Linked DNA regions of Homo sapiens: region 2 is linked to region 1. The links come from fine-mapping of genetic effects on gene expression. Tissue or cell type: tibial nerve. Region 1 holds a variant in brackets; the other region holds the start of a gene. All regions are shown on one strand. Distances are between the middles of the regions.

The links. PIP is the estimated chance that this variant, and not a neighbour inherited with it, causes the effect.
Region 2: RIC3 starts here. The variant in region 1 is fine-mapped to the expression of RIC3 in tibial nerve (GTEx, PIP above 0.99). The same link has a PIP of 0.9 or more in esophagus muscle, gastroesophageal junction, lung, sigmoid colon, subcutaneous fat and tibial artery.

Annotation. Positions count from the first base shown.
Region 1 is chr11:8,305,940-8,314,044 of GRCh38, reverse strand. No RefSeq gene overlaps it. Among named protein-coding and RNA genes, the nearest start is that of LMO1, 46 kb to the right of the region's middle. The variant C/T (reference allele first, on the strand shown) is at 3,494.
Region 2 is chr11:8,165,420-8,173,524 of GRCh38, reverse strand. RIC3 (RIC3 acetylcholine receptor chaperone) reads left to right here and starts at 4,500. Exons shown (of 6, transcript NM_001206671.4): 1 at 4,500-4,659. The coding sequence starts at 4,536. It overlaps RIC3-DT (RIC3 divergent transcript), which reads right to left and starts at 4,455. Exons shown (of 5, transcript NR_187234.1): 1 at 4,336-4,455; 2 at 3,537-3,640.

The DNA.
Region 1 (8,105 bases):
GACAGACAAACTGTGCAGCCTCCTTTCCGAGACTCTGAGCAGTGCTGCCTATGGGATGTGATTCTGGGTGGTCCCAGCAAGGCATGCTATGGGACATGGTGCCACCTCTCCCCAGGGGTGTGGCTACCTGGCTCCCAGTGGCTGCCTCAGTGGCAGGGTGTCTCTGTGGGGGTCACCACATTCCTGTGCTCTGCCTTTTCTCTGCCCAGCCAAGAGGGTCTGATTGGGCTTCCTAAGTCTGGCCTTTTGGGCACTGGAAGTGACCTGCTCAGCTGGAGCCCCACCTTCCCTCTGGGTGCCCTCCCAGCTCACATGCTCCCTGTGGTGGGGAACTCTCTCCCTCCAGAGATGCCTCTCTGGCTGTTGGAAGCCTTTCCCGGGACACCCCCACTGCACCCAGGGAGGACCCTGACCACGAGGCCCATCCCCGCGGCTCCCCTGCAGCTGCTCTTCCGTGTGGTGCTTCTGCAGGGGGCTCTGGCCCCCTCCCTGTGGGAGTCCTGTCTCCTGGTGCCCTGGGGTCCCCACTGGAGAGTATTTCCCTGCCGACAATGTCCCAGGCTTGTGCTCTCCTGTGAGTACAGCCTAGACAGGGGCTGAGTTGGGCCCCCACCCCCAGAGCCTGACCCTGGGGGACTTTAGCTAATTGTGGGCCCCGCTTTCTGGGCCTGGGGACACCTGTGGGCCTTGGGTTCCCTTTGTCTCACTTAAGAAAGGAGTCACGAGCAGTGGTTCAGAGAGGAACAATAAGCCTTTATTGCGGCTGCCCTTCTCCACAAACGCTCAACCTGCTGGCCAGCGGAGAGCCGTGCTGGCAAATTAAAAGTCTCTAAACTTTCTTTATGTCTCCTTGGATGCTCCAGCAGCTTTAACGCTGAACTGGCTGGCCTGGCTGAGAGACAAAGAGGCCAAGCTGGGGTCACGGCCAAGGCCGTAGGACAGGGAGGATCTCACTGAATGGTCCCCCACTGGCCCGTGGATGCAGATGGGGCGGGGTGGGGTGGAGCAGGTGAGGGTCTTGGCTGTGGTGCTAGGGGTCTGGGGCCCATAGGCTTGGGAAGGCCTCTTGGGGCAGTTGGCTGGACAGGGGTATGGGGTGCTGCTTCCTAAGTCTCCATTGTCTATGGATGGCAGACATGGAGGCTCCTCTAGCTGCCTCTGAAGTCCTCTCTTAAGGAAAGCACAGCCTGAAACCAGGGGCAAAGGAAGCCTGTTCTAGACCCCAGAGAGCATTAGCTCCCTTACCACCACTCTCCTGGGTGAGTCCTGAGACTGGGAGGTCACTAGAAGAGGCTGGAGGACCAGGTCTGTGCTACCACAGATGAGCACACTGCCCCTGCCACCTCCCACCAAAAACTTTGGCTCACCAGGGCCGGGTTGAGAAGGTGAGGCTGGGACAGCCCCTGTTAACCCTTGTGGTCCCGGCATTATCCACAGCACCTCTCTTCACCCTCCAGAGTGCCAGGGTTTCTTGTTGTGTGCCAGCTGGGTGCTGGGCCATGCCATCTTTGCAGGACAGCTGAGTTACAGCATCAGCAGGGAGTCACCTGGGCCAAGAAATGTCACCCCTCACCCCACAAAAAACGTGCCAGGATTTGCAGAATAGAGAGGAACTCTGTGGGGGTGTACTGACTTGGAGGGGGCATAAAGGAGCCTTCTGGAATGCTTGAAGTGACCGAGACCTTGATCTGGGTGGTGATTCCATGGGTGAGCACATACATAACAAGCCATCGACTCGCACGCTCTGCTGTATGTATATTGGACATTACGGTGATGAAAAGCAAATAGACATAGGCCCTGCCCTGAAGTACGAATGAATCCCAGCTCTCCTACTTCCCAGCTGGATGACTTTGGGCATGTCACCCAACATCTCTGAGGCTCTGGTCTTCATCTACAAATGGGGAGAACATCACCTACTTCTTTCCCACTAACCTGAGCCCTCCATGAGAACAGAGACTGCACCTGACTCTCCTCTGTGTCCTCCTTGACCCCTGCGAAGGGGCTGGCTCAAGAAATTGCCGATATAATAAGAGCCTCCTCCAGGTCAGAGGGACCTCACAGCTCCCCAGGAAAACATCTCACCTTATTTTACCAAAATCCTAGTAATAACATCTCTCTTGGTGCCTCCTCACATCCCTCCAACTACTCTTCCATAAGGGGCTTGGGGTTACCTCTTTCTTCCTTGGAGAAGTGGGGGAAAAACTAGGGGACTGAGGCTGCGGCAGGGCCTGGAGCCCTTGGGGGTGTTGGGCCAGCAGGGCTTGGTTTGGAGAGGGGCCAGAGAGGGGTTTGCTTTCCTTGGCAGGGGACGGATGGGGTAGAAGAGTGTACCTAGGACAAGGGCCCAGCAGTGAGACCTTTGCTGGGACTGATTCTCTGGGACAAAAGAGGACTTGGGTTTAGGTCATGGCTGAGGAGGATGTTTCCAGCACTGTGCACACCCGGGACATGGCCCCTGCCCGCCAGCACACCCCGTGTCTCCCAGGCCCCATCAGGCTGGACGGCCCAGGCTCCTCTTGGGGGAAGGGCCCCTGCCCTCCATCCCTCTATCTGATTGTCTGCGAGGCTAGTTCTTGGCAATTTCTTGCTCCGTTTCTTTAATCCCGGATTCTCTTCAAGCGCAGAAGGAAGAGGAAAAAGCCAAAGGCCGAGGTGGAGAATAGGGAGGGGGATGTGGGGGATATGGGGGAGGTATGAAAAGAGATGAAGGAGGTCACTCCAGCCTGAGGCACCCAGGTTTCATCCTAATGGGGACAGCAAGTGCCCTTGAGGGTCCAGAAGGGAGCTGGAGCCCCAGGCTGGGGCTGCGTCAGTCCTGCTCTTCAGCCTCTCTAGTGCTGGGAGGTCGGTGTAAATGGTTTGTGTGCTGACACTGCAGGGCTACAGTCATTTCTATAGGCCAAGAACAGAGCCCTGGGGTGAAGGTACTGGCACCTCACCTTAGTTCAGCAACCTCCTAGGCCCTGTGCTGAGACTCAGGCAAGACTCGGGCCAGGGCTCAGACACAGGCTAGGCCAGTGCTGAGGCGTGCAGGCTCCGGAATAGCATCTTCCCCACTGGCTGCTGAGAGCTGGGGGCCCAGGAGGGGCAGGGAGGGCCCTGAGAGGTCAGCTGAGCCAGCACACCTGCGCTCCTCCCGTGCCTTGCCCTGCCTCCCCGCTCAGGCCTCAGAAGCCTTTCTGCTTCCAGAGAAGCAGGGGCGGTGAGGGTCTGTGGCACAAGGGCGAGCCCTGGAGAATGGGGCTTGTGTGGCGTCTGCAGCTTCTTAGAGGAAAAACCTATTGAGAAGCTCAAATCATGGCAGTAATTAGGCTACTTATTTTGTAAAAGTCCAAATTAAATGGAAAATCTGGTGCTAATGAGAATGTTCCATTTTCTCCTTTTATTAAATCTAGCTCTGTGCCTTCTAAGAGTTTGGGAATAGCCAGCCCCTGATGTCTTTCTCACAGCCAGTTCATATCCTCTGATTGTGGAGTTGCTGAGACAGAACACA[C/T]TCACAGGGCCTCCAGTTACCGGCTCAGTTGAAAAATGTCCTTCATAAGGCAGCAGCATTAACCCACCCCCAGCCACCCACACCTCCAGCCCTTCCCCCCATCTCCACCAACCCTCTCTGGCCTATCACCATCAGCTGCGTGGGCCCCCAGAAACCCAGACCCAACAGGGAGGGGCTGGTGTGGGTCCAGGAAAGCTGGGCTTCTGGTCTACCCCTTCTGGAGCCCAGCTTCTTCTCTAAAGAGCCTGGGACCCTACCACTTCCAGCTGCCTGCCTCCTGACAACAGTCCCAGGGAGGCTGAAGCCCACAACCTTCTGATTAGACTTGCACTTAGATCCCATAATTACCAATTAGGGGCTTCAGGCAATGCAGTTTGCCTCTCTGGGCTTCAGGTCCTCACCTGTCAATTGGGGGTAGTGCTACTATTAGCCTCGTAGAGTGTTGTGAGTGTGAGTGGAGAGAAGGCATTGCAGAGCACCTGACACACAGCAGGGTGCAGCACCTGTCTATGGCCAGGTCCCTCTGAAGCCTAGTCTCTAGCGAGAGTAGGGATATGCATTCTGTCACTCTAGTCTTTCCAGGATTTCCTCTGGAAGGTTTGGCGGGGGTGGGAAGGGAGGAACTAGAGGAGGAGAATGTCTTGGGATACACCCCCATGCCAGAGTAGGTATTGGGAGGAACAGCCTATCTGGTCCTGGCCAGTAGGATGCCTGGGCTTGGGAACCTGGCTGTCAAGGATAGGGAGGTCAGGGGGTGTATGCGAAAAATCATCCCATTCAAACAAAGAGATAGGAACAGACACATAGACAGACACACACACACAGGCTCAGTCCCAGCCCTCTTCAATGGGGCTGTCGAGGCCTTGGCAATGGGTCCTCAAGGAGACCTGCAGCTTGAAGCATAAGCCACACTTAGAATCTGCATTTCAATTCAATTCCCGGTTAGTCTACCCATAAGGGTTTACCAAGAACCTCAAGCGTTTCTAACACGAGGCTAGAAGCTGGGGAGAGAGCAAAGCCACAGCCACCACAGAATAGGCCCATCAGACTCAGGCTCCTCGTCTTGGTGATGCACATCCTCACCTGAAACTCAGATGTGAAACGTGACTGTCGCTTGACTCTTCTCCCTTCATCATCCCGTCCTTCATTACCCCCATCTATGGTGTCGACTTCTTTCTTAGTTTCCTACCTGATCATGCCCTGATCCCTGCCCCACAAGGCTTCCCTTCCTGCTATCTCATTTCAGCCTCCTCACCAGGATTATTGTAACAGTCTTAGCACTCCAGCCCTCTCTCCTGCAGGCCCCAGAGGGAGCCTCCTAAAATGAGCATTTGAATTTGTCACCCTCTGCTTCAATCTCTCCAATCACTGTAAAGCCTCTGTTATGTTCAGCATAAAATAAAACTTGGTTGTCCACGCATTCTGCATCTCTGTCACCTCCCCAGCCTACTTCTTTTCTGATCATGTCCCCCTTCAGCCCACTCCCCAGTCACACCAAAGAGCCTGTGGTTTCTCAAATGCTAAGTGACCTCTCATACTGCAGGTGGACTCCAGTTGCCTTTGCCTTCTTAGGATTTTTTCTCACTTCTGGGAACAGAATCCTTCTCTCATGTGAGGAGCCAGTTCTATGTGGTTTGGATAAGATGGGCAGGTGATCTAGTCTGTGATCTAGAACAACAAGAACACCTTATTCTTCTAGGGACAATGATTAATGTAGGAATGTGGACATGGCCCAAACAGGACCTGTTAGAATCTTCTCTGGGAATTTTGGCTTGAACTTACAAAAGAGAGCACCACTTACTTGTAATGGTAAGCCAACAGGAAGTGAGTCTGAGGTTTTTGAGGACCATCTGATTCACTGTGTAGAGAAAGTCTATCTGATAGATATAGAAAGAGATAGAGGCCAGGCACAGTGGCTCACACCTGTAATCCCAGCACTTTGGGTGGCCAAGGCAGGAGGATCGCTTGAGCCCAGGAGTTCAAGACCAGCCTGGGCAACATGCTGAGACCCCCATCTCTATTTTCTAAAATTAAAAAAAAAAGAGATTAAAGCTGGCAATTAATTAAGCTTCTGGATCCAGTCTTGCCTGAAGTCATATCACATGGACTGTTCACTTATGTAAATCTTTTTTAACTTTTTTTTTTTTTGGTCTAAGCTAGTTTGAAATCTTGACTAAGACAAGGCTGAATTGATCTACAGTTGATGTTCACACTGATGGCAATTCTCATCTCCCTTGTCTTATTGGAAAATAAGTCAAATCATTTTAAAATTCATTTCAACTCTCAACTCCTTTAAGAAGTCTCTTTTTCAACAACATGATTGTGATGTGATACCCCTACTCCACAGCTTAATTCCTACTGTGGCAATTACCATTTCTGCAACCAAATATGATCATTTTGATGGGAGGACTCCTGTCTAATTCAACTCTATATTCTCTGTACCCAGCACATGACCAGACACCAGGCAGAGGATAGAAAATACGATTCCATTAACATAAAGATGAAAAACAGTCAAAACTCATCAACACTGTTTAGGAACACATACACAAGTGGTAAAACAGTAAGAACAAAGCACAAAAATGAGTACCCTAAAGATAGGGCGAGGGATGATTAGATTCTCATAGAAGTTTGCAACCTAGATCCCTCACATGCACAGTCCACAATAGGGTTCGAGATCCCGTGAGACTCTAATGCCGCGCTGATCTGACAGGAGGCAGAGCTCACTGGCAGTAATGCTCACTGGCCCACCGCTCACCTCCTGCCGTGCGGCCTGGTTCCTAACAGACCACAGACTGGTACTGGACCATGGCCTAGGGGTTGGGGACCTCTGCCCTAAGAGTCAGAGTGGTGGATACCTCTTCCTAGGGAACAGGAAGAGAATACAGCTGGAAAGGGGTATACATAAGGTTTCTGAGATCCTGGAAATGTACTGAGTTTTGTTGTTGTTGTTGTTGAGACAGTGCCTCGCTCTGTCACCCAGGCTGGAGGTGCGGTGGCATGATCTCGGCTCACTGCAAGCTCCACCTCCTGGGTTCACGCCATTCTCCTGCCTCAGCCTCCCGAGTAGCTGGGACTACAGGCACCCGCCACCACACCTGGCTAATTTTTTTTTTTTTTTGTATTTTTAGTATAGACGGGGTTTCACTGTGTTAGCCAGGATAGTCTCGATCTCCTGACCTCGTGACCCACCCATCTCAGCCTCCCAAAGTGCTGGGATTACAGGCGTGAGCCACTGCGCCCGGCCAAAATGTACTGTTTTTTAATCTGGGTGACAGTTACATAGATGTTTACGGTATATTTCTTTAAATTCTGTGTATTAACATATTCTTTTATACATATTATATAGTTCACTACAATAAAGAAAATAAGTGAGGTGCTTTGGACCCAATTTTTTAAATTGTTTTATAACTTTATTGCACTGAAGTCATAGAATCTGTCACTAATATATCAAATTTTTATTATCTGTTAACGCTTCCTTTGTGTCCTATTATATAGTCAGTTTTTATTTATTTATTTATCTATTTATTTTGAGATGGAGTCTCACTCTGTCGCCCAGACTGGAGTACAGTGGCACGATCTTGGCTCATTGCAACCTCTGTCTCCCGTGTTCGAGAGATTCTCCTGCCTCAGCCTCCCAAGTAACTAGGATTACAGGCCCCTGCCACCATGGCCATCTAATTTTTTTTTTTTTTTTTAGACAGAGTCTTGCTCTTGTTGCCCAGGCTGGAGTGCAGTGGCGCCATCTCGGCTCACTGCAACCTCCACCTCCTGGGTTCAAGCGATTCTCCTGCCTCAGCCTCCGGAGTAGCTGGGATTAGAGGCATGCACCACCATTCTCAACTAATTTTGTATTTTTAATAGAGACCAGGCTTCTCCATGTTGCCCAGGCTGGTCTCAAACTCCCGACCTCAGGTGATCCGCCCACCTCAGCCTCCCAAAGTGCTGGGATTACAGGCATGAGCCACCGCGCCTGGCAAGTTTTTAAATGTTCCACTTGAAAACGAAGTGTACTCTTTAATTATTGGAAACAAGATTTTATATATGGACATCAAACAAATGTTAATAATTTTATCTGTTTCATCAATTTCTGGAAAAGGAGTGTTAAAATTTCTCATTACAAATGTAGGTTTGTCAGTTTCTCCCACAAGTCTGTCAATTTTGCTATGTATTTTGCTTAATATCCTCTGTCAATTTTCCCTGATAATCCTGTCATCTTTAAGGAGGTTATAGTATTATGAGCAATCAGGTTCAGCTTCACTATAGATTTCTATTCAATTGTTCTTCTTGTCAGTGAACAGTCACCCTCTTTAAATCTCAAGTTTTTTAAAACCATGACATCTCTTCTGGTTGCTATTAATGTCACTATATCTCATTTCCTTTGATTATTAGTATTTATGATCTTTCCCTATCCTTCTACTTTTAAGCTTTTTGTATAATTATGTTTTAACTATTAGGTCAGTTATAAACAACTTATAACTGGATTTTAAAAATCTTATCTGGGAATATCTCCGAACAAATGGGTCTAAGTCATTTAAATTTATTGTGATTACTGATAAAATTGGAGTTTTTAATACCACCTTTTAAAATTTTTACCATGTATTTTTCTGTTTCT
Region 2 (8,105 bases), 140 kb after region 1:
TGTATTTTTAGTAGAGATGGGGTTTCAACACGTTGGCCAGGCTGGTCTCGAACTCCTGACCTCAGGTGATCCACCCACCTAGGCCTCCCAAAGTGCTAGGATTATAGGCCTAAGCCACCACGCCCAGCCCCCTACCAATACTTTATTGGAAAACCTAAACCCTTAAGATCTTCAATTTTAGTGCACTCCCAGCTCTGATGTTATACCACCAGCCACCAGAGAGAGCAGCCATCCCAGGTCCCACTCCAAGCTGCCCCAGCTCCATGAGCTGCCTACCAGCTCTGTCGCCTTAAGGAGGCTTCCATGTCTTCCAGGTGCACATCCCAACTGACTGCAACAATGAATATGTTCCAAGCCAAATACTCTGTACTATAACTGTGTTTTCACCTTTCTCTAGGCCACTTCTAGGACTAATGAGATCACGATCTCTGCCCATTTACCTTGGCCACCATCTAAATTCCAAGCCCCCAAGGTCATCAATTTGCACACTGCCCCTCATCTCCATCCTGCTCACTTCATATTTTACTTTGACTCCATTTCTGACTTCCAAAGCTTCCACTTACCGTGCTGTATAGAGTCAAGAGCTATCATCAGAAAAACTCCTATATCCTTGACTTCTTTGAAGTTTCTCTTAACTTTCTTCTTCTTTTTTCTTTTTTTTTTATTTTGAGATGGAGTCTCACTCTGTCACCAGGCTGGAGTGCAGTGGCGCGATCTCAGCTCACTGCGACCTCTGCCTCCTGGGTTCAAGCGATTCTCCTGCCTCAGCCTCCCAAGTAGCTGGGATTACAGGCGCATGTCATCACGCCCAGCTAATTTTTGTATTTTTAGTAGAGGTGGGTTTCAGCATGTTGGCCAGGATGGTCTTGATTTCTTGACCTCGTGATCCGCCCCCCTTGGCCTCCCAAAGTGCTGGGATTACAGACATAAGCCACTGCGCCCGGCCTGTCTTCCTCTAATGAAAACTAGGCTGTTGCCTCTGGGTTCTGTTTCCCTTGCAGATCTCCCAAAGTAAGAGCTATTTTTCTTCCCACAGCTTAAAGCCTGGGAATAGAATAGATGCCCAACTTGTTTCCCCTTGCTGCTTCCAAATTGCTTCTTCCTCTTCTTCCTTTAAAAACCATAGCTCCTGGCCAGGCGCTGTGGCTCATGCCTGTAATCCCAGCACTTTGGGAGGCTGAGGTGGGTGCATAACAAGGATCGAGACCATCCTGGCTAACATAGTGAAACCCCATCTCTACTAAAAATACAACAAAAAAATTAGCCGGGCGTGGTGGCGGGCACCTGTGGTCCCTGCTACTTGGGAGGCTGAGGCAGGAGAATGGCGTGAAGCCAGGAGGCGGAGCTTGTAGTGAGCCGAGATTGCACCACTGCACTCCAGCCTGGGCAACAGAGCAAGACTCCATCTCAAAAATAAATAAATAAATAAATAAATAAATAAAAATTTTTAAACAATTAAAAAAAAACACAGCTCCTTAGAAGAGCATGTCATCTGGCTGCCCATTACTTCTTCTGTTCCTGTCACCTTCCAACCTTGTAGTAACTCCACATTCATTAAAGATTTTAACACTTGGATCACTATTTCCCACCTCATTTCTGTCCTCATACATGGGAACTTCAACATAATGTTGTGACCTAGGTTTCCATTGTGGCTTCTTACAACTTCACATGAGCACTCTCACTAATGCCATCTTCTCCTAGACTTCATTTACTATAGATGGGCTGATGATTTCCTATTGTTTCTAGCCCAAACATCTCTTCTGAGCTCCAGGCCCATATATCCAACTGGATATTTCTACTTGGATATTTCATGGAACTTCAAATTCAGCTAGTCAAAATCTGAACTCTTCATCTTTCTCACAAACCTGATTCTTCTATTCTTAAAATCATGTTATATAGAATTAATGTCTACCATTTACCCAAGCTAGAATTTGGTGGCGGAGGGCGGGGGGGAGTGTGGTCATTCCAGACCCCTCTGTATTTCTTAGAGACCACATCCCATTAGTCACCTCCTCCCTAAGCTGCATCTATAGTCCAGGAGTCCAGAGGTTTTCTGACTAAACCTCCCCAGACAGTAAACCTGGTAGCTAAGAGGGCAAATTCTTGAGTAAGCATGCCTGTGTTCAAATCATAGCATCCAGTTTATACTGTGTAATTGTTGGCAAGTAAATTATGTTTTCTGGGGCTCCATTTTCTTACCTGTGAAATGGGTATATAATAATATTGCTTACCTCTTGAAGTTATTGGGAGGAATAATTATGATATGTAAGATGCCTAAAACATAATTAGTACTCTAACTTTTAGTGATGTTAATAACATCAATGATAATAATGCCCGAGTGAAGCCAGCAGTGGCACCCATCTGGCTGCATGAATCAAGGAAAGAGATTCAGAAGATATCCATTGCTTTAAAAAAATCAAACAATTTTTTTTTAGAGACAGGGTCTCACTCTGTCACCCTGGCTGGAGTGGGTGCCCCTACTGGCTTCATTCAGGCATTATTATCATCTTATATATCATAATTAATTGTGGTTTCACACAATCATAGCTCACTGCAGCCTCAAACTCTTGGGCTCAAGTGATCTTCCCACCTCAGCTTCCTGAGTAGTTGGGACTACAGGTGCACACCACCATGCCTGGTTAATTTTTTACATTTTTTTGGTAGAGATTAGGGCTCTCCCTATGTTGCCCAGGCTGGCCTTGAACTCTTGGCCTCAAGCCATCCTCCAGCCTTGGCCTCCCAAAGCCCTGGGATTATAGGTGTGAGCCACTGTGCCCAGTCTCAACTGCTTTTTAATCAGATTTCCAGCCAATCCTTCATTCAGACCCACTCTGCACCCTTGGCTTTAAAGGAACCCAGTACCTCCAATTCTTAAGAGCATGGGTTCTGAGGGGCAAATTAGTTCACTCCTTACAGGCTTTCAGTCCACAGGCATTTAACTTTTTATGCTCTACACCTGCACTGTCTACTGTGGGCGCCAACGAGCCACACTATCGTGCTGATAAAATTTGAAATATTTTTGCTATCTTGGTTTAAAATATTATTAAAATAAATTTTACTTATTTTTACTTTTTAAATGTGGCTACTGGAAAAATTTAAATTACATATGTGGCTGGTATTATGTGTCTATTGGACAGTGTTGTGTGCGTCTTACAAAATTGACATTTCTCATCTGCTGTCATGTTTTCTATCATTGCATTTAGTCTTGTAGTTTATATACTTTATTTCTTTATTTTCCTTTTTGGGCACTGTCCCAGGAAAGCAAAGATAAATGCATATGTTACATCTGTCATGTTTAACTGGAAGTTCTACCTAAGCTTTTCACAATGTAGCTCCTGCTTATATTTGTGCACTTCGTGTCCTGTCACTACTCTATGGCCCTGCCAAAATGAATTACCAATAGCTTTCTGAACACACCAGGAAGCTTCCAGATTTGCCTTTATTTTTTTGGCCTCCTTTTTCCGGAATACCTTTCTAACCCCTCCCACCTGTCTGCCTATAAGTTACTCATTTTTCAACAGCTAACTCAATTTCACCTTCTCAAAGGGGCTTTTCTTGACTTTTCCTCGTACCAGTTGAGAAGACTGCTCGGGGATCCAGAATATTTCCTGCATTTTTTTTGTTTGGATAATTATCTGTCCTACAAAGGGAATCCATTTTATTCATCAGACCCTGTAGTGCCAAGTTGAGGGTCTAATACATAGTAAAAACTAAAATAATGTTAAATGAACGAATGAAGAGAGTAACAAAGAACGGTGGGATTGTAGAGAAAGGAGAGGCTGACTGAAAACGTTTCGAGAGAGCAGTGTTTTTAAGCTGTTCTTCAGAGAAGTTTTTGACAACTGGAGATGGTGTCAGGAATTTTCCAGGCAGTGGGAACAGGACAAGCAAAGCTTCCCTGAAGACAAGCAATATGCTAAAGAAATAGCAAATCATCCAGTTTGGAAGGAGCATTGGTAAGACCAGATCATGCAGGGCGTTGAGGTTATAGAAAGGAGTTTAACTATTGTTCTGAAGATAATGGAGAGTTAAAAGGTTTAAGCTGGAGAGAAAGAGAATTAGTCTTGTGTTTTAGCATTATCACCTGTGGCTGCAGACGGATAATGAATGCGAGGGGCATGAGTGGAAGCTGGAAGACAGCGAGATCATGGAGATGAGGAGAAACTGGATGTTGTGATCTACGGGTGGGTGGGGGGCAGTGGTGGTAAGTGGGGATAGAGATCCGGGCACGACCGCCGGATGTGTAGGCGGTAGAATGCACAGGACTCAGTAAAAGATGAACATGGGGAGTGAGGGAGGAGTTTTTAGTTAGTATGAACGGGAAGGCGAGGGTACCATTTACAGCGACGGGTAACCACGCGGGAGGAGCAGGTCAACTCCCGACAGTGGAGGTGAAGATGCGTGCGCCTCGCGCACCTTGTCCCTCGCGCGACGCCGTCCGCGCCGCCCGCGGTTCGGTCGGGAGCGGCAGCCCGTGCTCCGGTTCCGGTTCCGGTTCCGGCTGGCGTCTGCACCTGCGACCACCGTGAGCAGTCATGGCGTACTCCACAGTGCAGAGAGTCGCTCTGGCTTCTGGGCTTGTCCTGGCTCTGTCGCTGCTGCTGCCCAAGGCCTTCCTGTCCCGCGGGAAGCGGCAGGAGCCGCCGCCGACACCTGAAGGTAAGAGCAGGCCAGCTCCCTCTGAGCTTCCCGGCGCCGAAGAGTACGGAGAACGCTGCTTGAGGGAGGGGTGACTCTGAGAGTCTGCAGCCTTCACCGAAATATCCACCAAACTGACTGGAGAGGGCGGGCGAGACGGCGTTGAAGGGCCAATGCCCACGGTTCCGTTGTTATCAGCGGGTGGCGGCCCAGATGGTTCTGCTGCTGGAAGGGTCAGGAACGTATGCATGCAGGTCTGTGCATCCTCTAGGTGGCCTTGCGTACTCCCGTTTAGGCGCAGTCCCTTCTCTCTTACCCCGCTGGCTTAACTCATCTCGTCACCATTTGTTCACGTGCTTTGAGTCAAGGGTTCCCAGTTGGGTTTCCCTCTTTAGGTTTTCCGTGTACTTTCTGACGCGCCGCTTGGTACGAAATCAAGGCAAATGGAATTGGTACAGCAAACCTTAAGTCGTTATGTTTTTTCAACTTGGTGCTGGGCGCTCACTGCTTCAGGCTCTTCTTGTGCCTTTAAAAATATATCTTGAAGATTTTAATAACCCCAGTTTCAGTTACTGAGGTGGTTATGAACAAATTATTACGTTCCCCTTATTGAAACAGTATTTATCTGTTAATTCTTCGTTGTTGGCATGATGTATGTGGTGTTTAAAAATTCATCCTCTTAGCTGCACTGGGGCCTTTTACAGAATGAGTGTAAAGGCACGGTGCTGAAGGCTGGGAGAAGGAACCAGAACAGTTTTCTATAGGTCATGAAGTTCTACTGGTAACTTTCTCCTGTAAATTATCCTTGTAATATCTTTGAGACATGATTTTACGGTGTCTGAACACTTCCAGTAATGTTTAAACTGTTGATTGCTGGACAGCTCCTTTTGAACTGTAATCCACTTCCGTCTGCTTTATGCACATTGACTGTAGTTCCATTCTCTTGAGCATCATACACACTATAAATGCAAAGCACCAAGCTTTAGGGGTGGAGGGCAGGTTGAACACATAATTCTGTTTACAGAATTTGCCTGATAATCTTTATGCTTGTAAGACTATCCACTTGGGACGGACTTCTAAAACATCTTTGCGTATTTGTTCTTTTTTTTTCCTTTCTGTCTTATTGCAATAATCCCAAAGATTTTTACCTGCTTTGTCTAATGATATTGTCTACTTTGAAGAAGAGTCAATTCATGATGATCCTGAACAGTGAAGATTCTTCGAAAACTTTTTTTTTTTTTTTTTTACTTTCCATTATGGTGAATTATCTTGAACAAGTACTATTGACTGTGAGTGGGAGACACTCTTCTGAACGTTGTAGAAAATGTAGAGTGGAGATTAGACATGGGTTGTTCCCTTGAGAACTCAAGTGTTGGTATTCAGTGTTCTCATGTTAGGATCTTTGTACCTTCAGTTCTCTTTATTCCTGAAGTGCTGTGCTTTTCCCTCAGTGCCCTTCTCATCATTCAAATTTCTGCTCAAATGAAACCTCCTCAGAGAGACTTCCCCTGATGACACTAACTAAAATAACTCTTTTCTCCCATCATTCTCTATTTTATCATGTTTTATATTCTTCATGATAGGCATCACTATATGATATGGAATATTCTTAAGTGTTTACTTGTTTGTTTTTTTGTCTTCACCTTCTAGAATGTAAGTTTGCAAGGGTAGGGACTTTGTCTTGTTTACCACTGTTTCTTCAGTACCTGGCATATAATGGGCAGTCAATAAATACTTTAAGATTATTAAGCTACCAATACTGTAAATTCTGTTTTTGACAAGGAGAAGCTACTGAAGTAGTATAACCTAGGAAAAAACTTACCTTGAATGGTACATTCCAGTAACTGAAACTTGCAGCAAAAAATCTTAACCATTTTGGGGTTACATACACCATTGAGAATCTTATAAAAGCTATGTATTTTCTTTCTTTCTCTCTCCTTCCTCCCTCTGTCCCTCCCTCCCTCCTTTCCTCTCTTCCTGGCCCCCTTTCCCTTTCTCTTTCCCTTTCCCTGGGTCTCACTCTGTCACCCAGGCTGGAGTGCAGAGTCATGATCACAGCTCACTGCAGCCTCTACTTCTAGGGCTCAACTGATCCTCCCACCTCAGCCTCCCAAGTAACTGGGACTACAGGCACATGCCACCATGCCTGGCTAATTAAAAAAAATTTTTTTTGTTTTTGGTTGAGATGGGGGTCTCATTGTATTGTCCAGGCTGGTGTCGAACTCGTGGGTTCAAGTGATCCTTCTGCCTCAGCCTTCCAAAGTGCTGGGATTACAGGCTTGAGCAACTGCACTCAGCCTAAAACTGTATGTTCTCTCTAGAAAAAGGTACATACTCTTATTGTACTCAGAATTTCAGTATCAATTCAGAGAATTCTCAGAACCCAGAAATCCCTGCTTTGAAGAAAGGAATAACCCTGAGTATTTGAAAATTCTTAAAAATACATGTTGTTATGTCTTCCATTTTTGCCCATTGATGTGCATGAAACAAGCACAGTTCCCTTTCCACATGAAAGCCTTTAAGATAGTCTTTTAACAAATATTTATGATGTACCATATCACATACTGTGCACATAGTGTATAGACACTATGTATTCCAAGAAAAAATGAGCGAACTCCATGCTTTGAGGCGGCCACAGTTTAGTAAAGGAAAGTAGACATGTCAACAGATAAATGCAAAACAGACATGTTAGCAGATAAATGCAAGAGTGTCAGTCACAGTTACTCAAGTCTGCGCAGGGAACAATGGAGACATGTATGCAATGGTCAGTGTTATTGGGACTTAAGAAGGGTTTCATAAACCAGGTGTGACAGCTCATGCCTGTAATCCCAGCATTTTGAAAGGCTGTGGTGGAAGGATTGCTTGAGCCTGGGAGTTCGAGACCAGCTTGGGCCACATAACAAGACCCCCATCTCTACAAAATAAGTTTGTTTTTTTTCAATTAGCTGGGCATGGTGGTGTGCACCTGTAGCCCCAGCTACTCTGTAGGCTGAGGTGGGAGGATCGTTTGAAGTTTGGAGGTCAAGGCTACAGTGAGGTGTGATTGTGTAACTGCACTGCAGCCTGGGCAACACAGTGAGACTCTGCCAAAAAAAAAAACAAAACAAAACAAAAAAAAAACCCCAAAAAACAGGTTTCATAGAACATAGAGGAGGGAAGTCTTTTTTTTTTTTGATAACAGCTTTCTTGAGATCTAATTTATATATCATACAATTCACCCACTTAAAGTGTACAATTTATTGGGTTTCAGCATATTCAGAGTTGTACAACCATCACTACAACCAATTTTAGAATATTTCTTCAGCCCCCAAAGAAACCCTGTACTTTTTAGCTATTACTCCACAAATCCCCCAGCCCACCTCCAGCCCTAGGCAACCACTCATCTACTTTATGTCTCTATAGATTTGCCTGTTCTGGACATTTGGTATAAATGAAATCATATAATATCTGATCTTTTGTGACTGACG